3 linked regions of the Homo sapiens genome follow. The protein of the gene in region 1 purifies or fractionates together with the protein of each later gene. This does not show direct contact. Each region holds a gene or a part of one and is shown in the gene's direction. Other genes may lie near its edges.

Region 1 (3,650 bases):
TGCCCTTCTGGAGGCTGTCAGAACCTCAGAGGCACAGGAGGGGATCCCGCTCCCTGCCCTGGGCTATTTGAGTCTCAAATGTGCACCTCCATTGGGACCTTCTCCCACAATAGAACAGCCAGTTTCACAGCCCTGCTGTGTCTCAAGAGTCAGTCTCCGCTCCCTGCAGGCAGAGAGGCAGCCTGGACTCCTTGCCCCTTGGGCCTGCCTGGCTTGTGTCTTGGCTCAGGTGCAGCTGTGCCTACGAGCACCAAAAAGGGCCTCTGCCCAGAAACGCACCCAGCGCAATAGCATCGGAGGTGGAGCATGACTCTGATGTCCTACGAAACTGTCTCTGACCTCACAGAGCCACATTTTGTCTTGGTGACAACACAAACAGTTCACATTTCTCCTAACTCTAAATTAGAGTACCTCCCGAGTGGGAGGCTGTGCAGAAGGGGCTGACATCCTTACATTGGTGGGAGACACAGGAGGAGAGCTTGCTCACGGCACGTGTCCCTCTGCCAGGGTGCGACAAAGGCAATTAACACCTCCTCCCCTCCTCCCCAAGGTCTTCCAGCTGACTGGGCAGGACAAGTGTGGGGCTTGTCCCTAATGGTGCCTGGAAGCTGGCCTCTCTGTGAAGCCCTCCTCTTGCCCGACACCTGGTGACCTTCCCTGGCAGCTATGTGGGGGGCCACCTATGCCGGACCCAGTCCCACCTGCAGGGACAGGCAGCATAAAGGAAAGGGGAATGGGGGCACCAGGCTTCTGCTCAGGGCTCATTTAAGGGAACCTAGAGACAGAGGGTGACACCTCACCTGGTTAATATCAGGCAGGAACCTCCTGAGAAGGGAAGCAGTGGGAAAATGAGCCATGTTGAGTGTGTCGGGTCACCTCCTGACAGCCTGTGTCACAGACCCCAGGTCAGGGCCATGTCACCTACAGCTCACGCTCTCACTGGTGTCCCCAGACCGCCATGTCTGCTTCCTTCTTTCCCTGGAGCCTCATTCTTCAGGGCCTCAGCGGGGTGAGCCAGCTCCCCACTGTGGCTGGTGGGCTCCTACCATATGGTCGCCTGAGCCCTCCTGTCTCATCTCATCTGAGTGGCAGCAGCAGCTCATGATCTGGAGGCCACCTGCAGAAGGTCTTTGTGGCTGGGAATGAGAGCAGTGGCCCCCTGTGGAAGCCTGCTGCCCCCAGGAATAACCCAGGGCTCTGTGCCTGGGACCCCGTGGAGGCCTCTGGAGGTCTGCAGCCCCCGCGTGGCTGCCGCGCTGTGAGGGTTCCTGGGCTCACAGGCTCATGTGTCACTCTGAGGAGAGCGTCCATCAGGACTGGAGCAGGTTTTACCCCCAGGAAAGAGAAGGTTTGTCCTTCCCTGAACTTGCTTGCTCAGGACCCCTGGAGGAAAGCACCATCCCAAGCAGGCTCTGGAGCTTCAGTGCTCCAGTGGCCAGCCCCAGCCCTCACCCTGCCCATTCAGGCAGAGGCCTCTTAGCTGGAACACAGGACTGGCCCCACTCTTGGTTTCCATGTTGAGGTGAGGATTCACACAGTGCTTAGGGAGTACCCAGTGAAGTGAAAGGAGGGCTCCTGGGATGGGAGCTCAGAGGAGGGCCTGTTTGTGACATTCCCATCCTTGACCGCCCCCACAGCTGTGACAGCCAGTGCCAACACCTGGTCCTAGCAGGGAGGGTCGTGGACCTCACCTCCTGTGCAGCCCCAGCCCACTCCTCCTCTCCTGCCCTAAGGCCCTAGAACTGCTCATCATTCAGGGAGCAGAAACAGATCCCATGTTAGGAGAAAGCAGGGGTCAGCCCCATGGCGTACAAGGGCTGCCTGGGAGAGGCAGGGGAGCGTCCAGTGTCTTAGTCCACACCACTCTGGAGCAAGGCACTCTGCTGGTTATTTGAGCAGAGAGAAGCATGTGAAGAATGGTCGGCTAGGTATAATGTGGTTGACTGGGTAACACTGCATAAGAGCAGTCCTGAAGTGCCTGTCACAGAGGTAGCAGCTGCAAAACGTTTCTGCTTCTCCTAGAACTTGGGAAATGAAGAGAAGAGGTTGGACTAACTCAAACTTAGGATCACAGGGCTTGGGACCTAGAGCTCTAAGAAGGGGCATTGCTCAGCTGGTGCTGGCATCTCTGGGGCTTGGGATGGGAGCAGGGGTGCCATGAGGTTGGTTCTGCAAGTGTTGAAAAACACACAGTAAACAAGCTCCAATCACTCCAATGGCAGGGCACTGTCTACCTGGATGAAGGGGCATTGTGGTTGGTGGCTGACCTTACAGGCAATGCTCATCCACAAGAAGCCCACAGGAGGGCACCAGCCCCCAGCCCCTCCCTCCTGCAGCCTTGCAGCCCAGCCTCTCCCTCCTGCAGCCTTGCAGCCCTCAGCCTCTCCTTCCTGCAGCCTTGCAGCGCCCAGCCCCTCCCTCCTGCAGCCTTGCAGCCCCCAGGCCCTCCCTCCTGCAGCCTTGCAGCCCAGCCTCTCCCTCCTGCAGCCTTGCAGCCCTCAGCCTCTCCCTCCTGCAGCCTTGCAGCGCCCAGCCTCTCCCTCCTGCAGCCTTGCAGCCCAGCCTCTCCCTCCTGCAGCCTTGCAGCCCTCAGCCCCTCCCTCCTGCAGCCTTGCAGTGCCCAGCCCCTCCCTCCTGCAGCCTTGCAGCCCCCAGGAATTCTGGATTGGGAATGCTAACAGGGAGCAGTTGGCAGTCCCAGTGACAGGATCAGATTCTGTGGTCAGTTCACTTCCGGCTCCATCACTGAGCCTTGATAATCTAGACATGCCCAGAACATAGCCCCTGCCCCAGGAAAGCCCTGCTCCTGTCAGAGGCAGCCTTGTCAGCTCCTCTGTAAAGAAGTCAGGATCCCCTCTTCCCAGGGCTGCTGAGGGAGTGGAGACAGAGAGCAGGGAGGCCCAGGCAGCCTCCCCCACTGACCCGCCTGCCCGTGGCTCTCTCGGCAGCTCATCAGCGATGGCAGTGTGGTCTGCGCTGAAGCACTCTGGGACCATGTCACCATGGACGACCAGGAGCTGGGCTTCAAAGCTGGGGACGTCATCGAAGTGATGGATGCCACCAACAGAGAGTGGTGGTGGGGCCGGGTCGCCGATGGCGAGGGCTGGTTTCCAGCCAGCTTCGTTCGGGTATGGTTCCAAGCCCCAGCTTCTCCCAAGTTGGGCCCATAAAAAGCTACCTGGTTCTGCAGAGAAATCCAAGCCCAAAACAGCTCTGGCATCCTAGGTGCAGAGCACTGGGTGGTGGGTGTCGGGGCGCAGTGTCACAGCCTTCCTCCTCCTGGAGAGCCACTACTCCTGCTCCCATTCCTCTTCTGGTGAGCCCTCGGGGGCCAGAGAGGAGAGCAGTCGAGAAATGAGTGTGTGCAGACACTAGGCACCCCTCTGCGATACCCCCGCAACTCCAGGCGCTAGACATTTCCCAAGCCCTGAAGAGCACTGATAGGGGACTGCTCACCTCACACACAGCCCCGGGAGTGGGAACCATGACTTACACCTGAAGAAGTTGAGGCACGGTCAAGTTATTAGCCCTGGAGATAGCAGAGAGGGGACCTGGATTCCATCTAAGGGGGTCTCCAGTCTTCAAGGAAGGAATCCAGGTGCAGTCTCCAAAAGGCCTGGCTCAGGGCGTCCAAGCTGAGGGCCGTCCGG
Region 2 (3,650 bases), on another chromosome or scaffold:
GGAGTCTCTGGAATTGCCAAATAGATTGATCTTGTCTTTTTTGCTTACCCTATGGGTCCCCCTTTAAAACCCTGACAATCAAGGTACACATAGGATTCTCAGTCAAAACCTCTGTCTGTACCTCCAGTTTGTTTTACTTCTACATTTAATCTAGGACCCTTCTGTAGGAAGCCTTTCTACAAACAGCATTTCCTAGTGGTGTGGTTGAGGGATAGGAAAGGCAGGGCAGTCAACAGGTCTGGGACATGGATGCGAATTGAATTCTCATCTGGTAGGAGACTTGAAAATTGAATTCTCATCTGATAGGAGACTAGAGTTGAGAGTAGAGAGGCTGCATTGAATGCTCTTCCTTTCTAGCCCTACCAAGCTAGTTAGGATGTAGCAGTAGGTCCTATTTTCCTGAGGGGATTTTTGGCACTTGGGAGGAATGAAGTTGCCCCTAAGTTAGAATTTCAAAGTAGAGACAGTTTGTCTTTGGTGCTATTACCCACCCTCTCCTCTCACAGCTGTTTGGTGATCTTCTGCACATCCTGCCCTCTTCTATTTGCCTGATGCTCTGTTGCCATTTAGCAGAGTATCTCTTGTTAAATCTTTTTTTTTTGAAACGGAGTTTCGCACTGTCGCTCAGGCTGGAGTGCAGTGGCACGATCTCGGCTCACTGCAACCTCTGCCTCCCAGGTTCACGCGATCCTCCTGCCTCAGCCTCCCGAGTAGATGGGATTACAGGCACACACTATCTCGTTAGATCTTTAAAAGGTCTCTTAAAGTCTCACTTCTCTCAAACTTAGGTCTTTCAGATCTTAAACTCAGGTCCCAAATCCTCAGTTTTCCACTGGACTTAATGTTCTCATGGGCTCAATGGCTCTACTTGAACACGGCATTTGTGTGTAATTTATTTGAAAGTTTGATGTTGTAATATTCACATATATCGTTAGGTGGCAGCATGTGGCTACCTAGCAAAAATGGATGTCTGATTTCAAATTAGTAATGGAGATGGAATTACTATGATTCTTTTGTTCCCTTTCTCTGTCTCTCGATATATGCCATTTATAAAATAGCTCTTATGCTTTTTATAAAATAATTATTGTTCTTGGTTAGGTGGTTTTTTTACTAAGCTCTTTTTTTCTTTTCTTAATAAATAGGTGGGAAATACACCAAGAGTGATTTCAAGGAGTATGAAAAAGAACAGGATAAACCACCTAATTTGGTTCTGAAAGATAAAGTAAAGCCCAAACAGGAGTATCCTTACCAAGAATCAGTTAGTTAATATGTATTGACCATCTGCTATGTGTAGAGTACTGTGTGATGTGTTATGAAAAGTCACAAAAGCTATAGAAGACAAATTTCCTGAATCCAGATTGTTTGTGAGGAAGTAACTTAGTTTATCATTATCTCTTTTCAAGATCTTACATATACTTTGCTTTTTCACTATACTCTAGTGTATGGAGAAAGTTAAGGTTGAAAGAAATCTGTAGCCTAATTCTTTTATTAATACTTTCCTACTCTAGGTTAAGTACTTTCCTACTTATCATATTCTCAGAAGATCTTCAGGTAAGATTTGTATTTTCTTTTTGGGGGGGCTTTCCTGCAAAAACCGGAAAGCCTACTAGACAAATTCTAAAAGAGCTGTAACACTAGCTTTGTATTTTCTATATGTAATTGTAATGTTTTCTATTCCTCATAATCTGAAATTTATTATTGCTAAGCTGATTCCTTTGTGCTACCTGCTGTTATGTTTAACTTCCTTACCTAGATAACAAAATCCTATTGTTCTCTGTTACAATGTTAGGTTACTTCTTTCGGTATAGTATATTGTAATTTCAACAACAAATATTTATTGGGCTTCTACTGAGTGCAAGAGTTCACTTTTGTAGGATTAAAAAGAAATCCATTGACTTGACCATTTACTTCAGGTTCTTCCAAGTTTTAGGTTGAGACATGTAAAAAGTAATGAAACATACTGTTTATATTATGACATTTAAATTGGTTCACTAATTTTTCCCATTATAAATATATCACTCCACACATTGCAAGAGTTATTTCTGTTGTGATTCTTTCTGGTAAATGGTGTCTTTGTTTCCTAGTTTCTATTGGTATTTCAGGGATTTTTTTTTCTACATATGTAGACATTTCTTTTCCAAGTACTCATCAAGAAAGATGAATATCAGGTTGACCTGGTCTATATTCATGTTTTAAGATGTGTTGATTGTCTGCAATGTATAAAGCATTGTGAGGTGTTAGAACTGGATAAAGTCTGAAGAAAGCTGATAAAATCAGCATAAGGAGAGGCTTTCACATGCAGACAGACCAAATAAGAAGCTGAGATTTGGTCAGAAAAGATCAACATTCAAGGGCATATGATTGAAAGCTCAAAATCATAAAAGTTATGAATGGAATACATTTGATATTTATTTACCAAATCTTTGAAATTAAATTTAGGCTTATTACTAATAACTATAGCTGGAAGAAGGGGAATTTTAAGTTTTCTTTAATTTTAATTAATTGAAACAACCACACATATACTTATATGGAATAGTGTAGCTTCTAGCCTTTTGAAGTTGATGCAAAAGAGAGAAATGCTGTTAGGGGATAGTCTGATGTGCAGATAAATTGTCTTAAGTCAGTTAAGAAGGCATGGTGGCATCTACTTTATGGGCCTTAAGAGAAAGAGAAATTAGTGAAAGTATAGATTATTAATAAGAAGAATCAAAAATAGAAGTAGGAGAAGGAAATAACTTGGCCCAACTAGACCTCAGGGAAGAAATTGGAGAAAAGATGGCAGTGAGCTCACAAATTTGTGTTTTATTCAAAGGGAGAGGGATTTGATGTCTTCTGAAAGTGTTGATTTTAGTGATAAGTACAAGATAGTGGGTAAGTGAGGAAGCAGGAGATACAACAAGTGTCTTGAGGGTATGACAAGTAATCAACAGATACTTAGTAAGCATCTGTCACATACTCAGTTTAGCAATGAAAGATATTCAGTTCCTGCCCACATAGAGCTTACATTTTGCTGTTGGAGTGGGGAAAAAAAACCAGACATTAAATAATTACCATTCTAAATACGTCTAAATTATTGCAAATAAATATTGCAAAGAGATATGGGACTCATAATAGGGGGCGAGAGGTTAGAGAATACCCTCAACACTGAAAAAAGTGGCATTAAAGCTGTGACACTAATATGGGAGATAGGAGGGCTGAGGTGGAGTGCTGTCTTCTTTCGTATGATCCATCATTTAAGAAATAGGCTGGGTGCAGTGGCTCATGGGAGTGCTGTCTTCTTTCGTATGATCCATCATTTAAGAAATAGGCTGGGTGCAGTGGCTCATGCCTGTAATCCCAGCAGTGTGGGAGGCCGAGGTGGGAGGATTGCTGGAGCCCAGAAGTTTGAGAGCAGCCAGGGCAATATAGCGAGACCCGGTCTCCATTTTTTTTTTCTTAAAAAAAAAAAAAAAATTGGCTGGGTGCAGTGGCTCATGCCTATAATCCCAGCACTCTGGGAGGCCGAGGCGGGCAGATCACCCGAGGTCGGGAGTTCAAGACCAGCCTGGCCAACATGCAGAAACTCCGTCTCTACTAAAAATACAAAAAATTAGCCAGGCGTGGTGGCGGATGCCTGTAATCCCAGCTACTCGGGAGGCTGAGGCAGGAGA
Region 3 (3,650 bases), on another chromosome or scaffold:
TGACACATGGGGATTATGGGAACTACAATTCAAGATGAAATTTGGTCTTGGCCCCTCCCAAATCTCATGTCCTCTCATTTCAAAACATAATCATGCCCTTTCCAACAGTCGCCCAAAGTCTTAGCTCATTTCAGCATCAACCCAAAAGTCCAAATCCAAAGTCTCATCTGAGACGAGGCAAGCCCTCTCTGCCTATGAGCCTAGAAAATTGAAAGCAAGTTAGTTACTTCCTAGATACAGTGGGGCTACAGGCATTGGGTAAATATACCTGTTCCAAATGGGAGAAATTGGCCAAAACAAAGGGGCTACAGCAGGCCCCATGCAAGTCCAAAATCCAATAGAGCAGTTGTTACACCTTAAAGTTCCAAAATGATCTCCTTTGACTCCATGTCTGAATGATAGCTTTTGGACCTATAGGATTCATGTGGCTTGTAGAAAATTTAAAACTTCATTGTGCCTCGCATTATATCTTGATTGGACACAACTGATCTAAAGGATGACTAGAGCTTAACCTAAAGCAGGGTGAGACTGAAGTGGCAATGGAGAGAAGAGATGAAGGGTGAGTGTTCTGCATAGGGTACAGTGTGTGCAAAACTACTGAGGCAAGAAAGAACCTGACATGCTCAAGGAAATAAAACGAAAGCCTTGCAGGTCACATGAAGGATTCTGAACATTTTCTAAGACCAGTAGGAAGAATTGAGGTTTTAAAATAAGATACTCAATTTTCAAGGAGTTTAATTGTTAGTTTGCAGTTAATAAATGAGGGCAAGAGAACTTCAACTGAATATAGCAAGACTTTCAACATTGAAGCTCCCCAACTCCCTAGGATGGTGGGGGAGGGGCGATTTGGTCAGTGGAGGAAGCAGGACGCTGCCCATCACCTGAACCTAACCCTAGGGTATGAGGCATGAGCACCCCCCACTAGAGAGAGAAGCAGTGTCACCTGGGAAGAGGTCGTTTTCAGTTCAGATCTTTTTCAGTGCAATTGACACTCAAAGCTGAGTGGGAGTTTGAGGACAGAGCTAGGAATTCTGCAGGGCACCAGCAAATGGTTTGGTGAGGGAGGGCTGTAAAGGTGGGTCAGGGAGAAGGAAGCCCAGAGCATTATGGGGATTAGAGGGTCTGTCCTTTGAAAGGCTGTGTTGGGCAATAACAGGAAAGCTGGTTAAGTGGTCCAGACGCTTGGGTTCTGACCGTCTCCTGGGGTATAGTGGCTGTACCATTTATCTGTGGCCTAGGGGAGGTTTCCCTTTAAGTCAGAGGTCATAAGCTAGCAGCCACGATCTAGCCTGCAGAAGAAATGTTTTGTTTCACTCACATTTTACAAATATACATTAGTTGCTAATATTTAAATCAGATATCAGATAAAAATACACGTTTTCATTTTTTTTTTAATTGGAAGATCTAGAAACCTCAGTTGCTCAGTATCACAGGGCAATGGGCTGGAGCTAAGTAGTAGGTACTCCTTTGATTTTTTACATGAATTTTTAGGAGGTTTTGAAATGATTGTTTTAGCTTTTTTAAAAAAGACATTTATTTACTCAAAGTTTCTCTGTGGTCTGACTCTAAGTCTTGCATTCATCCTAGTCTTCGATGTCAGCAATCCCATCTTCTTTTTGTTTTCCAGAAAAGTTCTAAGAACAGTGCTGTTGGCTCAGTGAGATGAGGTTATCGGAAAACTTTCTGTTTACACAAGAGTTGCCTCCTTCAAAGAAGCATGCATGGTCCTTGCAGGTCACTGTGCCCATCACTCTGCATAGTCCAGCTGCACTCTGCTTCACACAGCTGCCTGCCCATTGCAGGCATTTGAGTTTGCAATCCATGCCTTAAACTTTAAATCACACTGGCTACAGCGTTGTGTGTTTCTTGGTAAACACTGGGTAAATCAGCTCCTGTGGATGTTGACTGAAGTTTCTATGTTTGCAAGCTAATCCTCAGCAGTTTCTTTGTAAGTATCCAGCAGTTAAGTGGGAAAAGTCCGTTGATAGTACTAGGGAGGAGAGAGGAAAGTGACCTTTTGTTTTCTTGAGATAGACATACTAGTTTAGTACTTTATCATGTATTCACCTGCGTAAATGTATTCCTGTGCTTCAGAGTGAGGGAAGGATGCATATTTGCATAGTTTTTGTGACTGCAGTACTGTTCCTCTGTTCTGGTGTGTGTGTGTGTGTATTTTTTTTTTAGTAAAAAGAAAACAGAACTTTGTTTTAATGCAGTAAGCAAATATAGGAGAATAAGATACCACAAAGCTTGGTGGTGGGTGCCTGAGTGTCCATGTTGCTATTACTACATTGTTTTGTCCCCTTGATATAGTTTATAATCAAAAGATGGTGGAAAGGTGCTTCTGTCTACAAAATTTGTCTAACCATGCCCTTCTTTAACTGAAGAGAGAATGGCTTCATTAGCTTATGGAGGTTTCTCACTTGACAAGATAAACTGAGGGTGAAGGTAGAGGAACAGTTGATAGCTTCTTTTTTCTCCATCCCCCTCCTCCACTACCAATAACAAAACAAAATGATCAATGGTTACAAAGGGTAGATACAGTTTTTGATGGAGCTGAGGCTTCTACTACTTGGTGGATTGGGGCTTTGTAAAGAAACACTGCAAAAATATCTTCCATTTGCAAATTAACACACTTACACACACCCCTCCGTGTGTGTGTGTGTGTGTGTGTGTGTGTGTGTGTGTGTGTTCATCACCTGGTTTCTCACAGGTGAGGGGCTCTGAAGCTTGAACTTTGTTAGATTCATGACTATTCTGCCCCTGGGCACAGGCAGTCATCTGGCAAAACACTGCCTAGATACCTTTTGTTCCCTTCTCTGTTCTGCCACCCTGATGCCTCTTCTAGGCTAAGGACAGAGACATTGGGCTTCCTCCTTGGGAATTCTCAGCTCTGTGGGATGCTTTAATCTGGGTCCTGAGCCCAGGCTCTTCTGGTTCCCTGGCACTTCCCTGCTGCACATGCACAGCAACCTGGTACTTAACAAGAAAGGAAAATCATCATCCTAACTGCTGTAGCCTTTCAACTTCAGTCATGCACCACCTAATGATGTTTCAGTCAAGCATGGATCGTGTAAATGATGGTGGCCCTGTAAGATGGTAATGGAGCATATATAGACATCTGATATGTGGCACTTGACATTGGCATTGCAGATCGAGTAGGGGAAATGACTGATATTCAGTAATTGTGCTGGGATACTTGGCTTTCCATATGAAAAAACATAAGTAACAATATGTATACCATCTAGGTTTGTGTAAGTACATTCTATGTTGTTTGCACGACAAAATCACCTAATGATGCATTTGCCAGGACATATTCCCTTCATTAAGCAACACATGACGATACTTGCAAATCACCTCAATTTGATTTCTTTCCTTAAGTCCTCTGTTTGCCTTCCATTGAAATATAAAGCCTTATTTTAAAGACTGTTTTCCCTTCAGAATCTCTAGGAATTACTAAAGAAAGGTAGAAACTAGATCTAGATTCCAATCAATTTTGCCATTGATTGTTATTTTACTGTGGGTGACTCACAGTTTAAGTGGGAGAGAAAATCTCCAGTTAATGGAAGTTGCCAAGAGTGGCAGAAGACCAGGCTGTAGTGCTCGTATAATCTTTACAACCCAGTGTGCAAAACACTGGAGGAGAGATG

Evidence for each region.
Region 2: the proteins of ARHGEF4 (region 1) and PPIL4 purify together in Homo sapiens (affinity purification with mass spectrometry, with the first as the bait; one large-scale study listed by BioGRID). This does not show direct contact.
Region 3: the proteins of ARHGEF4 (region 1) and BPGM purify together in Homo sapiens (affinity purification with mass spectrometry; one large-scale study listed by BioGRID and IntAct). This does not show direct contact.

What each region holds. Positions count from the first base shown.
Region 1 is NC_000002.12:131,035,905-131,039,554, forward strand, and holds part of ARHGEF4 (rho guanine nucleotide exchange factor 4), read left to right. Parts: intron 1-2,948; coding exon 2,949-3,128; intron 3,129-3,650. UniProt on the Homo sapiens protein: Acts as a guanine nucleotide exchange factor (GEF) for RHOA, RAC1 and CDC42 GTPases. Binding of APC may activate RAC1 GEF activity. The APC-ARHGEF4 complex seems to be involved in cell migration as well as in E-cadherin-mediated cell-cell adhesion.
Region 2 is NC_000006.12:149,514,943-149,518,592, reverse strand, and holds part of PPIL4 (peptidyl-prolyl cis-trans isomerase-like 4), read left to right. Parts: intron 1-1,142; coding exon 1,143-1,239; intron 1,240-1,576; exon of another isoform or gene 1,577-1,636; intron 1,637-3,650. UniProt on the Homo sapiens protein: PPIases accelerate the folding of proteins. It catalyzes the cis-trans isomerization of proline imidic peptide bonds in oligopeptides.
Region 3 is NC_000007.14:134,656,721-134,660,370, forward strand, and holds part of BPGM (bisphosphoglycerate mutase), read left to right. Parts: intron 1-1,373; exon of another isoform or gene 1,374-1,990; intron 1,991-3,650. UniProt on the Homo sapiens protein: Plays a major role in regulating hemoglobin oxygen affinity by controlling the levels of its allosteric effector 2,3-bisphosphoglycerate (2,3-BPG). Also exhibits mutase (EC 5.4.2.11) activity.